Regions from separate parts of the Homo sapiens genome. Here all the other regions are linked to region 2. Evidence: fine-mapped expression QTL. A gene starts in region 2. Each other region holds a variant in brackets. All regions are shown on one strand. Distances are between the middles of the regions.

What was found. PIP is the estimated chance that this variant, and not a neighbour inherited with it, causes the effect.
Region 1: its variant is the best candidate, but not a certain one, in a credible set for the expression of PLEKHA2 in nasal epithelium (TOPMed, PIP 0.60).
Region 3: its variant is the best candidate, but not a certain one, in a credible set for the expression of PLEKHA2 in monocytes after R848 (Quach 2016, PIP 0.80).

What each region holds. Positions count from the first base shown.
Region 1 is chr8:38,926,376-38,930,485 of GRCh38, forward strand. The region is part of intron 2 of PLEKHA2 (pleckstrin homology domain containing A2); the gene reads left to right. Among named protein-coding and RNA genes, the nearest start is that of PLEKHA2, 27 kb to the left of the region's middle. The variant A/T (reference allele first, on the strand shown) is at 2,031.
Region 2 is chr8:38,899,601-38,903,710 of GRCh38, forward strand. It overlaps PLEKHA2 (pleckstrin homology domain containing A2), which reads left to right and starts at 1,746. Exons shown (of 12, transcript NM_021623.2): 1 at 1,746-1,845. It overlaps LOC124901937 (a long non-coding RNA gene), which reads right to left and starts at 1,845. Exons shown (of 2, transcript XR_007060893.1): 1 at 1,613-1,845; 2 at 1-1,096. RefSeq lists enhancers at 158-347, 408-657 and silencers at 1,258-1,667, 1,748-2,417.
Region 3 is chr8:38,944,178-38,948,287 of GRCh38, forward strand. It overlaps PLEKHA2 (pleckstrin homology domain containing A2), which reads left to right. Exons shown (of 12, transcript NM_021623.2): 5 at 1,947-2,044. Among named protein-coding and RNA genes, the nearest start is that of HTRA4, 28 kb to the right of the region's middle. The variant A/G (reference allele first, on the strand shown) is at 2,374.

The DNA of each region.
Region 1 (4,110 bases), 27 kb after region 2:
AAGTACTTTTTTTTTTTTTTTTTAGAGACAGGGTTCTTACTCCGTCTCCGAGACTGAAGTGTAGTGTGCAGTCAGAGCTCACTGCTGGATTTGACTGGGCCTGGTCAAAACATGCTTAGAATTAAAATTATATGTGGGCTTTTTGAGAGCTTAATGTAGAATTAGAAACTGCAATTTTGCTTTATGTGTTTTCTGTAGCCATCATATTTTTTAAACAAGTTGTATCTTTATAACAGGATGTACTTTGTCTAAATTAAAAAAAATTAAAAACTAAGCCGGGTGCGGTGGCTCACGCCTGTAATCCCAGTACTCTGGGAGGCCAAGGCAGGCGATCACCTGCGGTCAGGAGTTCAAGACCAGCCTGGCCAACATGGCGAAACCCTGTCTCTACTAAAAGTACAATAATTAGCAGGGCATGGTGGCAAGCTACTCAGGAGGCTGAGGCAGGAGAATCGCTTGAACCCGGGAGGCAGAGGTTGCAGTGAGCTGAGATCACGCCATTGCACTCTAGCCTGGGTAACAAGAGCGAGACTCCATCTCAAAAAAAACCAACCAACCAAACAAACAAACAAAAAACTAAGTAGCACATTGAAAGAATTGTGTTAAGAGTTAGCACTACTCAGTATTAAAGTCCAAGCAGCTAAACAGATAGAAGCTATGAAACTTAGCAGAGGTTAAATAACTATTGCAAAACCATAGTGATGACTATTCTAAGTTTTCTCAAAACTTCTCTTTGGTATGTTGTTGTTAGATTTTGCTTTACATTTTAACCTTCAACATTTGTTCAATGTATTTATTATATACATCTCTTTCTATATTTATAGATCTAGTTATATACCAAAGAATGGTATGACCAGACATGGTGGCTCATGTCTGTAATCCCAGGCCTGTGGGAGGATCACTTGAGGCCAGGAATTTGAGACCAGCCTGGGCAACATAGGAAGACCCCATCTCTACAAAAAATAAAATAAAATAAAGAAATTAGGCAATCGTGGTGGCATATGTCTGTAGTCCCAGGTACTTGGGACGCTGAGGTGGGAGAATCACTTGAGCTCAGGAGTTAGAGGCTGCAGTGAGCTGTGATCAGGACACTGTACTCCAGCCTGAGTTACAGAGCAAGACCCTGTCTCAAAAAAAGTCATTTTATTAATTTATTATCTAAATAGTGTCTCGAAGGCAAAGGAGGTTGGTTATTGCATGTTTGGGGGAGGGGTTCATATTAGATTTTGCTTCAGAGACCAGTTTTATTAGTTATATCAATTGAGCACAGGACAACATGATGAATATATTCATTAAGGAAACATCCATTTTTTGAGCCTCCTGTCCTCATCCACAGTATATGGTAATGATATCAATGATCTCCACCTGTGACATTGTTGCTGTGAAGAGTAAATAATGTATGTGAGAATGCTTTGATGAGCTCTAAAGTGCTACAGATGTTATCTGTTAAGAAAGTTTGTTCTGGCCAGGACATCGGGATGGATGGGGAGGTGGGGAGAGCTGGAGCTGGAGATGACGGCTGGGGATTTGTCACAGAGCTTCCTGATATGCCTGAGGTGGTGGGAATGGAGAGTGGGGGGGCAGGTTTAGAGGCTACATGAGGGAAGAATGTTTGAAAGTTTAGTACCTGGTTGACTGGGGAGAGGAGGTGGAATTACTGACAGAGGCTGGGGAGGGGAGAGGGAAACCGATTAGAAAGTGGAGGGGAAATGACATTGAGTTTGAGGCTGGATTGAAGAAAGGGCTGATGGAGTTGGCTTATTGAGTTTACAGCTTTAGAAACATTTAGGTGGCCAGCAGTCAGAGTTGGGACCCAAATGCCTCCGGGAGATTATCTGAAGCCCAGGCCTCTGACCTGGTCTTTTTTTTTTTTTTTTTTTTCTTTTTGAGATGGAGTCTCACTCACTCTGTCACCCAGGCTGGAGTGCAGTGGTGTGATCTTGGCTCACTGCAACCTCTGTCTCCTGGGTTCAAGCGATTCTCCTACCGCAGCCTCCCGGATACCTGGGATTAAAGGTGTGCGCCACCAC[A/T]CCCAGCTAATGTTTGTATTTTTAGTAGAGACAGGGTTTCACCATGTTGGCCAGGTTGGTCTTGAACTCCTGACCTCAAGTGATCCACCCGCCTTGGCCTCCCAAAGTGTTGAGATTACAGGCATGAATCACCGCGCCCGGCCCGACCTGGTCTTTAAGTCTCTGTCACCAGAGTTGGAAGACGGAAATAAAGGGAATGGGGGTGTGGCTGAGAGACTTAACACACAATGAAACTTATCCTGTCTAAAGCTGATACTGGTGTCTGTCAACAAGAAATCGACATCCAAGTAATAGAATAAAAACATTAAGCCCACGCAGCAGAGGATGATATAGAATCGACTTCTCCTGAAGGGAAAGATTAAATACACACTTTGAACTGGAGAATGGGGAGAGTAGCTATCAGCGTGTCGTGTGTCCCCGCGTTAGCATCAGCAAGTGGACCTACAGGGCAGAGGGGAGGAGAGGTGTTTGGCCCTAGAGCAGCAGGTAGAGCCACGGCCCAGGTCACCTGGTGCCTGGGATTCGCTTGGCTCCCCTGCTTTGGTTGCTCATGTCAGGGTGAGGGCTTTGGAATGTGGGGCAGCGGCAGCTATGCTCCTCCTTCCCAGTCCTGTCACACCGTTCTCCTACATTCAAATGTCTACTCTGAGCTATACCCCCTCTGCAGGCACATTCTTTTCTGTGAGTCTACATGGCCGTGGCTTTTGGTGGCTGAGCTATGGTTTTAGCTCACAGACAGCAATGTCAGCTCATGCCCTAGCTCTGGGATTACCAGGGGCGTCCCCTCCCTCCGTCTCCTGCTAGCTGCTTTTTACTGTCTGCTGGACACCCCAGGGGCCTGTAAGAGAAGGTCAGATGGCACCAGCATCTCTCCTTCCTTCCCCCTTTCTGCTCTGAATCTCTGGTCTATTGGAGTTTGGCACCCAAGAGCCAGTTGGACAAGTTCCTGCCCTGCCCAGCTTGGGCAATGACACTGGGCCTCTTTTGGTGTAACCCTGCTGGTCCTGCTTTTGTATTTACCTTTCATTGATAATCAGCTCTTAGATAATGTCTCATGGGAGATGGCAGGGCCTAAAGGAAAGTGCATGGGATTTGGGAATCAGGAAGGGTTGGGCTTGAATACTGGCTCCGCTGCTTGCTGCCTGTGTGACCCTGGGCAGGTTCCTTCACCTGCCCCATCCTTAGTTTCTTCATCTGTGAAATGGGATTGTTAGGATTAGGCGACCACATGTGAAGGTGCCTAGCAGCATGTCTGGCGCATCATAATTTCTAAATATATGTTAGTTTCCTTCTTTCTTTCTCAGGCTGTTACTTTGCCAAAGCACCAGATTGATGTTAGGAGTTTGAGCTCTGTCTTCATTTGACTCCCTAAGGAAGTCACTTCCCCCAGTTGAGCCTTAGAGGACTCATGTGTAGTGAATGAAGAGGTATGCACAGGACCTTTGAGTGCTGACATGCTGTGAGTTTATGGATCGATAGTTGGGTCTTCTGGTCATTTCTGTGTTCTTTGTGACTCTCACTGGAAGAGGCGGAAGGGAGTAGAAGTCACATGGGTAAAAATTTCTTCTTCAACAAGAAATACTGCTGTTGCTAGAAAAAGGATTAACGTGGGAGGTGTGCCACATCCCTGTATGGGCACCTCAGCTGCTTCCTTGGTGACGGAGAAGAATAAGCCATATATTTTCCCCCCTGGGGAGCTGGCTCCTTCAAGGACCTTAGTGGCAGAAGAGCTCTTGAGCAAAAAGGAAGGTACTGGCATTGTCTGCATAAAACCACCTATCTTTATTTATTTATTTATTTATTTATTTATTTTTGAGATGGAGTCTGGCTCTGTCACCCGGGCTGGAGTGCAGTGGCGCAATCTCGGCTCACTGCAACCTTCGCCTCCTGGGTTCAAGCAATTCTCGTGCCTCAGCCTCCCAAGTAGCTGGGATTACAGGCGCATGCCACTATGCCCGGCTAATTTTTTAATACTTTTAGTAGAGAAGGGGTTTCACCATGTTGGCCAGGCTGGTCTTGAATTCCTGACCTCAGGTGATCCCCCTGCCTCAGCCTCCCAAAGTGCTGGGATTACAGGCGT
Region 2 (4,110 bases):
CTGGTGCCTGAAACTTACAGATGAGTGGCAAAACCCTCCATGAACGGGGAAAAAAAAGACATTGATGTATTTATTTCAAGGGAAATGTGTGTGTGTGTGTGTGTGTGTGTGTGTGTGTGTGTGTGTGTGTGTGTTTTGCCCATCGTCCCCCTTTTCTTCCTCATTGAAAGCAAAATGCTCTAAAGCAAACAGTCTTTTTTCACACCTGAGACACCGGCGGTGTTCATTTTTGCTTTGGCAATCAAAATGGAAGAGGAAACTTGTGTGGTTTCATCACTGGTGCTTTCGGGGTGTGTGGGGCGGGCTGTCCTTCTCCCTCGGTCCTGGCTCATCGGCCCGAGCCCCCCTCCCCAGGCCTTGTGGCCTCCGGTCGGTCGTGGAGACATAAGAGGCCGCCTTTCCTCTGTTAACACCGGGAATGTGCCCCAGCCTCTCCCTCCTTCCTGCAAATCCAGTCCTTGTCCTGGAGAACCTCAGCGTCTTCTTATGCCTGCCTCTTTCAAAGCCTCGTAGGATTTACACCTGATTAACAACGTTTGCATTAGGATCGCCAGACACCGGCGCACGGCCCCGCAGGCCCGCGCGAATCTTCTACATTTTCATGTTTCGGATGTTGTCCACCTGACTTGATGCATATTCAAATGTCTCTCTCCCGACGTGGGAGGCCGGAGTCAGAACCTGACAGACCTGCCGTTTACTAACTGGGTACCCAGGGCAAATTACTTCACAAGTCTGAGTCTCGGTTTCCTCACCGTGAACCGGACTGGTACCCATAGGTTGCGGCGTGGATCAAATGAGATAGCGCAGGGGCGGGACCCGCGCACAGCAGCTCTCTTAGTTCCTCTTGGCGAGGTTTACGTAGTAACACATGCTTGTCTGTTTCCCATTTTTTCCCAGAGCACCCTCATGCTCTGGGGGCAGGAAGGGAGTCTTCGCATCACACCGAAAAAGTCCCAACGGGCACGGTGTAGGCGCCTGTGGTCCCAGCTACTCGGGAGGCTGGGGCAGAAGGATCGCTGGACCCAGGAGGTCGAGGCTGCAGTGAGCTATGACTGCGCCACCGCACTCCAGCCTGGGCGACAGAGCCAGACCCTGTCTTGATTAAAAAATAAAATAAAATAAAGAAATTAAAGTCCTTATAACCCTGGTTAGAGCGTTCCCGCCCACTGGTCTCTTAGGGCACATTTAGGACAACCTGAAGAAGCCACTCTTCTTGGGACCCTAACCCTTACCCCAACTCCTCGGTCCCCAAAGGCTAAGGGCTCGGGATCCGAAGGAGGCCCAGCTGAGGTCGCTGGGTGGGGCTCTGGGAGGAGGAAATGGGGTTCTTGAGGGAGCTCGCGCTCCAGCTCGCCTCCTCCTGCGAGGACGCCCCCTGCCCGGACACCTGCTGCCCGAGCGAGCGTCGGGGCCGGGCCTCCCCGCGGGGCAGTCTCGGCGCGCAGGTCCCACCTGCCAGGCGCGGAACGCGGGCGGCCTCGGGCGCAGCCTCCGGGCGCCCCGCCCCCGCCTCCCCCGCGCGGCCCCGGCGCCCGGCCGCACCCCCTCCCAGCCCGCGGCGCCCCGGCACCCCTCTCCCTCCCCGGCGGGCTCCGCGGAGCATTGTACTCACATCCGGGGCTGGGTTTTGCTTTAATGCGAAACGTAATTAACCCGGAAAAAAGAGCCGAGGGACGGGAGAGAAGGAGGGGGCACTGGGGGAGACCAGAGCGAGGGGAGCGAGAGGCGCGGAGAGTTTGGCAGGCAGACCCAGAAATCCCTGGAGCGCGGCGGACCCGGCGGCCGGAGGGGCGACCCCGCCCGATGTAACGCGCCCCGCCCGAGCCCCGGCCCCTGCACGGGGGGGTAAGTTGGGCGCCCTCGCGGGCTCGGGAGTGGAGAGGCGCAGAGGGGCGCGCGGGGGCTGGCGGGGCTGGGGGTGCAGGGGGCGCCCCGGCGGAGGCCTGGCGGCCTAGGGGCGCGAGGGGCGCGCGCGCAGGGCTGAATACGCCGGTCCTAGTGGCTGACAGGCGAGGGGAGGTGGCCGCAGACCCTGGAGGCCTCCTCCAACCCTCTGGGAGAGCCCCGAGGGCAGCCCCTCCTCCAAGTGCCCCGGGTGGCCAAGGTCGCCGCCGCCAGGGGTCGGGCTGCGGGGGGTGGGGCCGCGGAGAGGGTGGGGGCGGGAGTTCTGCTGAGCTGCATTTTCTCACGTTTGCAGCAGCGAAACTTCTCTGCGGGTTCTGGCGCTGGGGCACCGACCCCGCAACGACTGCCCGGGCTGCGGGAGGGGAGGAGAGCAGAGAACGTCCCCAGGCAAGTCCCTTGGGTACGGATTGGGCCATGGAGACTCCTCTTTCACTCCCCCGACTACCTTATTAAATGACAGGCCTAGAAGGCTCCCCTAGGGACTCCTGTCCTTTCCTCTGGGTGCAGCCTGGACTTCGGGCTTCTGGAACTCCAGACAGTGAAAAGGACTGCCCTAAAATGCAGGTTCGGTGCCAGGTTGGGTGAGCCCTCGAGGGGAGCTGTCGTTCTCTCTCTCACCAACTTCTTCCTCACCTTACACGCTTCCCTTTTCTCCTCCAGTCCTAAAGACGATTTCACCAAAATTTTTTTAAAAAGAAAGAGAAAAGAAGGGTGTGGGGGGGGGTGGTGGGAAGCTAGGCCGTTTAGAAGGGAAAAGTGTCCCTGCACGCCCAGAGAGGGGCGCAGGGCCCGCTGCGGCCGGAGCACCCTCACATCTCCTCCCCGGGGCCAGCCCTGCCCCCAGGCCCTAGCCTTAGGGTTTGGCTTCCTTCCTTCTTGGTGAACGCAGGTTCAGGATGTATCTTCCCCTTCTCATTCCTTCTTCCTGCCCGCCCCCTTTCTTTCTTTAGGGCTCCAAGTGGGGTTTTCAGAGGACAGTAAACGGCAGAGAAGAGGGAGGGGAGAGCACCCCACCAGAAAGCCAGCTGTGGCTCTGGGGGCTCTGAAGGCTGAGCTGTAGATGCACTTGGGGCTGAAGTCCCAAGATTGCACTAATGGTGTTCTTAATCTATCTGACCAAGTCCCATTTTCCCTTCTTTTGTCATTTTTTTTCTTTGGTTGCGAAGCCTTCCGAAACAGCAAAGCAAAAGATCTTGAAAGAATAGAAGTTTTTGCTTTCTATTTCAGTTGCATTCAGTTGACATGTATTATACATGCAAGGCAGTGATGAACAAAACACAACCCCTGTCTTTATTTTTTCTTTTTCCTTTACCTCTGGAGGGCTGGACCCTGTCTTTGGCGAGCTTACAGGACTTGTAAGCCCCCCACTTGTTTTGAGAAGCCAGAGTAAGCTTTTAGAAAGCATCATCATCATCTCAGACATTAGCCCTCTTCACCATGTGCCGCCTGAAGGCAGATGACTTTTGCACTATCAGAGGTCTAGCTTGTAGTCTAGATTATGGCCAGCCCAACGTATGACATGTACCAGGTGCTAAGTAAATGTTTATTGCATTAATGAATGAATGCAAACACATGAATTGTTTGCACTTGTCCAAATGGCAGAGAAAAGAGCAGTGTGGTTGTTCCTCAAACCTGTAGGGATTTGGTTCTCCAAGCTGGTACATGGGAGTTATTAGTCCGGATGTTGCCTTTACACCTAAGTATCCTTTGACCCTGTTTGTACATTACAGCATGCTTTCTACAAATTGTCTATGGCACTCCTAGTGGGGTTTTAGCTAGCTGGTAATGGGAGCCTTGCTCATTTCACAGATTGGTAATTACCTTGGTATTGATTGAGAAACTGCCTGCCCTTTGGTGAAGAGTTTTTGCAACCCTTTCTTTTTCCTTGTCATTGGTGCTTTCTTCTCTCTTCTGTGTTAAGGAAATAGGGCCTGCAGATCCCATCATGTCATGGTAGTGAGCTGAACCATATTCAGCTCGGTATTTTTGAGTGGTTAAAATAAATCTTGAAGACATGCAGGTTTTGGTTGGTGCAGGTTTTTGTTCTGCAGAAGTGGGAAGGGGAAGGCTGATGAGCCCTATCAGCTGAGCCCCAGAGCAGCCCTCCCACTACCTTGCCAAGTGTTTGCCGAAGTGCTAGGATACTAGGAAGACCCAAGCAGCGTTGGTCTCCTGTCCAATTCATGGGACAGATGGACAGGTGGG
Region 3 (4,110 bases), 45 kb after region 2:
TGAACTGCTATAAAGAAATACCTGAGACTGGGTAATTTAAAAAGAGAACAGGTTTGCCCGGGCCTGGTGGCTCACACCTATAATCCCAGCACGTTGGGAGGCCGAGGCGGGCAGATCACCTGAGATCAGGAGTTTGAGACCAGCCTGGCCAACATAGTGAAACCCCATCTCTACTAAAAATACAAAAAAATTAGCTGGGCGTGGTGGTGAGTACCTGTAATTCCAGCTACTCGGGAGGCTAAGGCAGGAGAATCTCTTGAACCCAGGAGGCGGAGGTTGCAGTGAGCTGATTTCAGGCCATTGCACTCTACTCCACCTCAAAAAAAGAAAAAAAAAAGAGGTTTAATTGGCTCAGTGTTCTGCAGGCTCTATGGGGCCAGAGGAGAAGCAAGAAAGAGAGTGGGGAGGTGCTATGCATATTTAAATAACCAAATTTCACAAGAACTCACTATTATGACACAACAGCATGGGGGATGGTGTTAAACCATGAGAAACCGCCCCCACGACCCATCATGATCCAGTCACCTCCCACCAGGCCCCACCTCCAACATTGAGGATTACAATTGAACATGAGATTTGGGTAGGGACACAGATTTGGGTGGGGACAGAGATCCAAACCATATCAATGTCCATCATCTCGAACATTTTTTTCTTTTAATAATTGTCCATATGCATTTCAGTTTTCTTGATGCCACAAGGCAGGTGCAAAATGTCCACTATAAGTTTCTGTGAACCTTATTTTAGAGCTGAGAAATGTTGTGCTCAGAAAAGATGGAGGACTCAGAGGAGACGCAGATGGCAGTGCCAGGAAGGGGATAAGACAAAGGAAGGAGAATTCTGTTAAGGGTCTCAGTTGCCCAATAGTGACATGTTGGGGGATGGTGTAGGAGGCAGAGTCACCGTGCATGGGTGCCTCAAGTCAGGAAGTGGTCAGTGAATTCAGTGAATCCATCATCAAATAGTTACTTGGCTCCTACTATGTTCTCACAGCTGTGCTAAGTGCTATGAGCAAATGCTAACAAATAGTTTCTGTTGCCTATCTGGGGTGGTTCTGAATGTAAGTTTCACAAAGGCAGGGGTATTCCTCTGCCTTGTCACTGTGGTATCCTCAGCACTTAAAGATGTTTCCTAGCGCATAGTAGGTGCTCAGTAAATATTTGTCAAATGAATGAATGAACGGATGAATTCTGCATCTACCCCATGAGACTCACCTCCTACAGTTCAAGCTTATGCTAAGAGAATAAAGTATTCCCTTGAGCGATTCTGTCTCCCCACCTCAGATTTGTTCAGACTTCTTTGGCATGCTCATTCTTCTATTTCTTGCAAATTTCATAGCTAAGCTCAGAAATGACTCTCACGTTTTGTGGTTATCAGATCTGAAAATATATATATGTAATAATAGTGAATGTGGAAGTAAATTGTTGACCTAATGGAATGCTCAGAGGAAAGAACAGGTTGAGAGTGAGGCCAAGGTCACAGATTTGATCTCAGGAAAGCTTTGTTCTATTTCCCAACCACAGACAACTCTCCCAGTCCAGACCAGTTGTGCCAGAGGAGACCAAGCATGGGTCCAAAATTCTGTATATACCGTGATGACAGTAAATGTATTAGCACCGCCAGAATGCGGTTCACAGTTGTGTCTTGTTGACGGCAGACCAGCAGCCTCATCACCGCAGAACAGCACACTGAGGCTGCTGTTAACATGGTCAGGTGTTGTTCCTGTGGCCAATGGGATGTTTTTAAAGGTGGGAAAGAGAGTGAGCAGGTGTGGCCTGGGGCTTCCTAGATATCCAGGCAAATGACTTAGCATCATGGGAGATTTCTTGTTCTGCTTTGTGGAGTTCACTCATCTCACTCCCTCAAACACCTTAGCTTTGTGGAGACTTGTTGTATTGCTTGTATTCTGACCTAGGAATGTCTTCCCTTCTTTTCTGTGGCTTTTGTAGTTATCAATGCCCTGTCTCAGAGATATTTCCTTCAAGCCAATGATCAGAAAGATATGAAGGACTGGGTTGAAGCCCTGAACCAAGCCAGCAAGATCACCGTAAGTTTGGTTTCTTCTGTTTTCTGGTGGTAGTAAAAGTGCCTCTTCCCAGGCTATGGCCTTGTTGGGGTTGGGGAAAACTGAGATGGCAGCGGGGACTTTCCCAGGAGCCTGGTCTGTACCCAGTTCTCTCCCACCTCGTCTTTTTCCTTGGCTGACCAAACACAAGTTGAACTGAGAGTCTGAGTTTGAATCAAGTTCAAGGGGAAGTTCATGGAGCGTCCCCTTTGTGCTTCCTGGGAGGGCTCCCGATCAGTCATGTTTCGGGTGATTCTGGGATGCTGATTCAGAATGTGGTAGGATTGGAAAATGGATTGGTGACTGTGAAA[A/G]GTCAAGTAAGGGGAAAAGCATATGGGGAGGGAAGTCAGAACTTTTTCCCAGCTTGGGGGATACTCTTCTTACTTTCAGAGGCTGCCTGCAGGGTCAGTCCAAGCCATCCGCCTCCCTGTCCTAGAAAAGCCTTCTGTTTAAAAGCATCACAGAGCTCGTTCATGGACTGTCCTACGAGTGTGCTCTTTTTCCTTGAGTTGGCTAATGAAGAATTCCTTTCTTTTTCCTTAGAGATATAGAAAAAGAAAGGAAGAAGGGTAGGAAGGATGGAGAGGGGAAACTATGTTTTGGAAAAAACTAGACTTTTAATCAATAAGACAGGCAGACTCCTGGCTTATATAGATCATGGCTTCTTTGCTGAAAAGTTTGTTTCTGTATCATACAGTCAGAAATGCTTATGTTTGAGGGGCTTCCAGTAGTGACTATTACATGCTGCAGCAAATTATCCTCCCAGATTTCTCAGGGTTCCTGTGAACAACTGTATAGAAGAAATTTGTACACGTATATAGTATTCATATTGCTAGACCCAACCTGAGTGTAATTGAGTCTCCTATAAGCACTTTTGCTGATTAGCTTCTTATTCTGATAAACCTTGGTAAACCCGTGAAAAGAGAGAGTGATGAAAAGAGAGAGGATGGATGGCTGGGTGCAGTGGCTCACGCTTGTAATTCCAGCACTTTGGGAGGCCGAGGTGGGTGGATCACCTGTGGCCAACATAGTGAAACCCCGTCTCTACTAAAAATACAAAATTAGCTGGGCGTGGTGGCACACGCCTGTAGTCCCAGCTACTCAGGAGGCTGAGGCAGGAGAATCACTTGAACCTGGGAGGCAGAGGTTGCAGTGAGCCGAGATCGTGCCATTGCATTCCAGCCTGGGCGACAAGAGTGAAACTCCACCTCAAAAAAAATAAAAAATAAAAAAATTAGCCAGGCCTGGTGGCTTACACCTGTATTCCCAGCTACTTAGGAGGCTGAGGCAGGAGGATCACTTGAGCCCAGAAGTTTGAGGCTGCAGGGAGTTATGATCGCACCACTGTACTTCAGCCTAGGCAACAGAGTGAAAGCCCATCTCTTAAAGAAGTCTCAGGTAGTGTAAACAGCTTTGGAAAGGCTCTGCATGTTGATCTGAAGCACTGCATGACACCGGAGCATAAGCACTGACAAACAGTGTTCTTCGGGATTTTGAGAGGAAACACAGCAGCCAAGCTTCTGTGCCTCCTTTTCTGGCCACTGGGAACTCTAAAAAGTTACTTTCTGGCCAGGCGCGGTGGCTCACGCCTGTAATCCCAGCACTTTGGGAGGCTGAGGCGGGTGGATCACAAGGTCAGGAGTTCGAGACCAGCCTGGCTAACATGGTGAAACCCCGTCTCTACTAAAAATATAAAAACTAGCTGGGCATGTTGGCATGCACCGTAATCCCAGCTACTTGGGAGGCTGAGGCAGGAGAATCACTTGAACCCAGGAGCTGGAGATTGCAGTGAGCCGAGATCGCGCCACTGCACTCCAGCCTGGGCGACAGAGCAAGACTCCATCTCAAAAAAAAAAAAAAAAAAATTGTTATTTCCCTCCTTCTTTGCTGGGTTTCAGGAATTCATCTGGGTCATTTAGGGGAAATTTCTGCAGTTCCATGGTGATTTTAATCACTAAATATCAACTAAAAATCAACATCCCTAAAAATGTGGTTACATAATAACAGAACTCACAGAAAGTGAGAAAGAGTAGCTTAGGTAGGTCGTG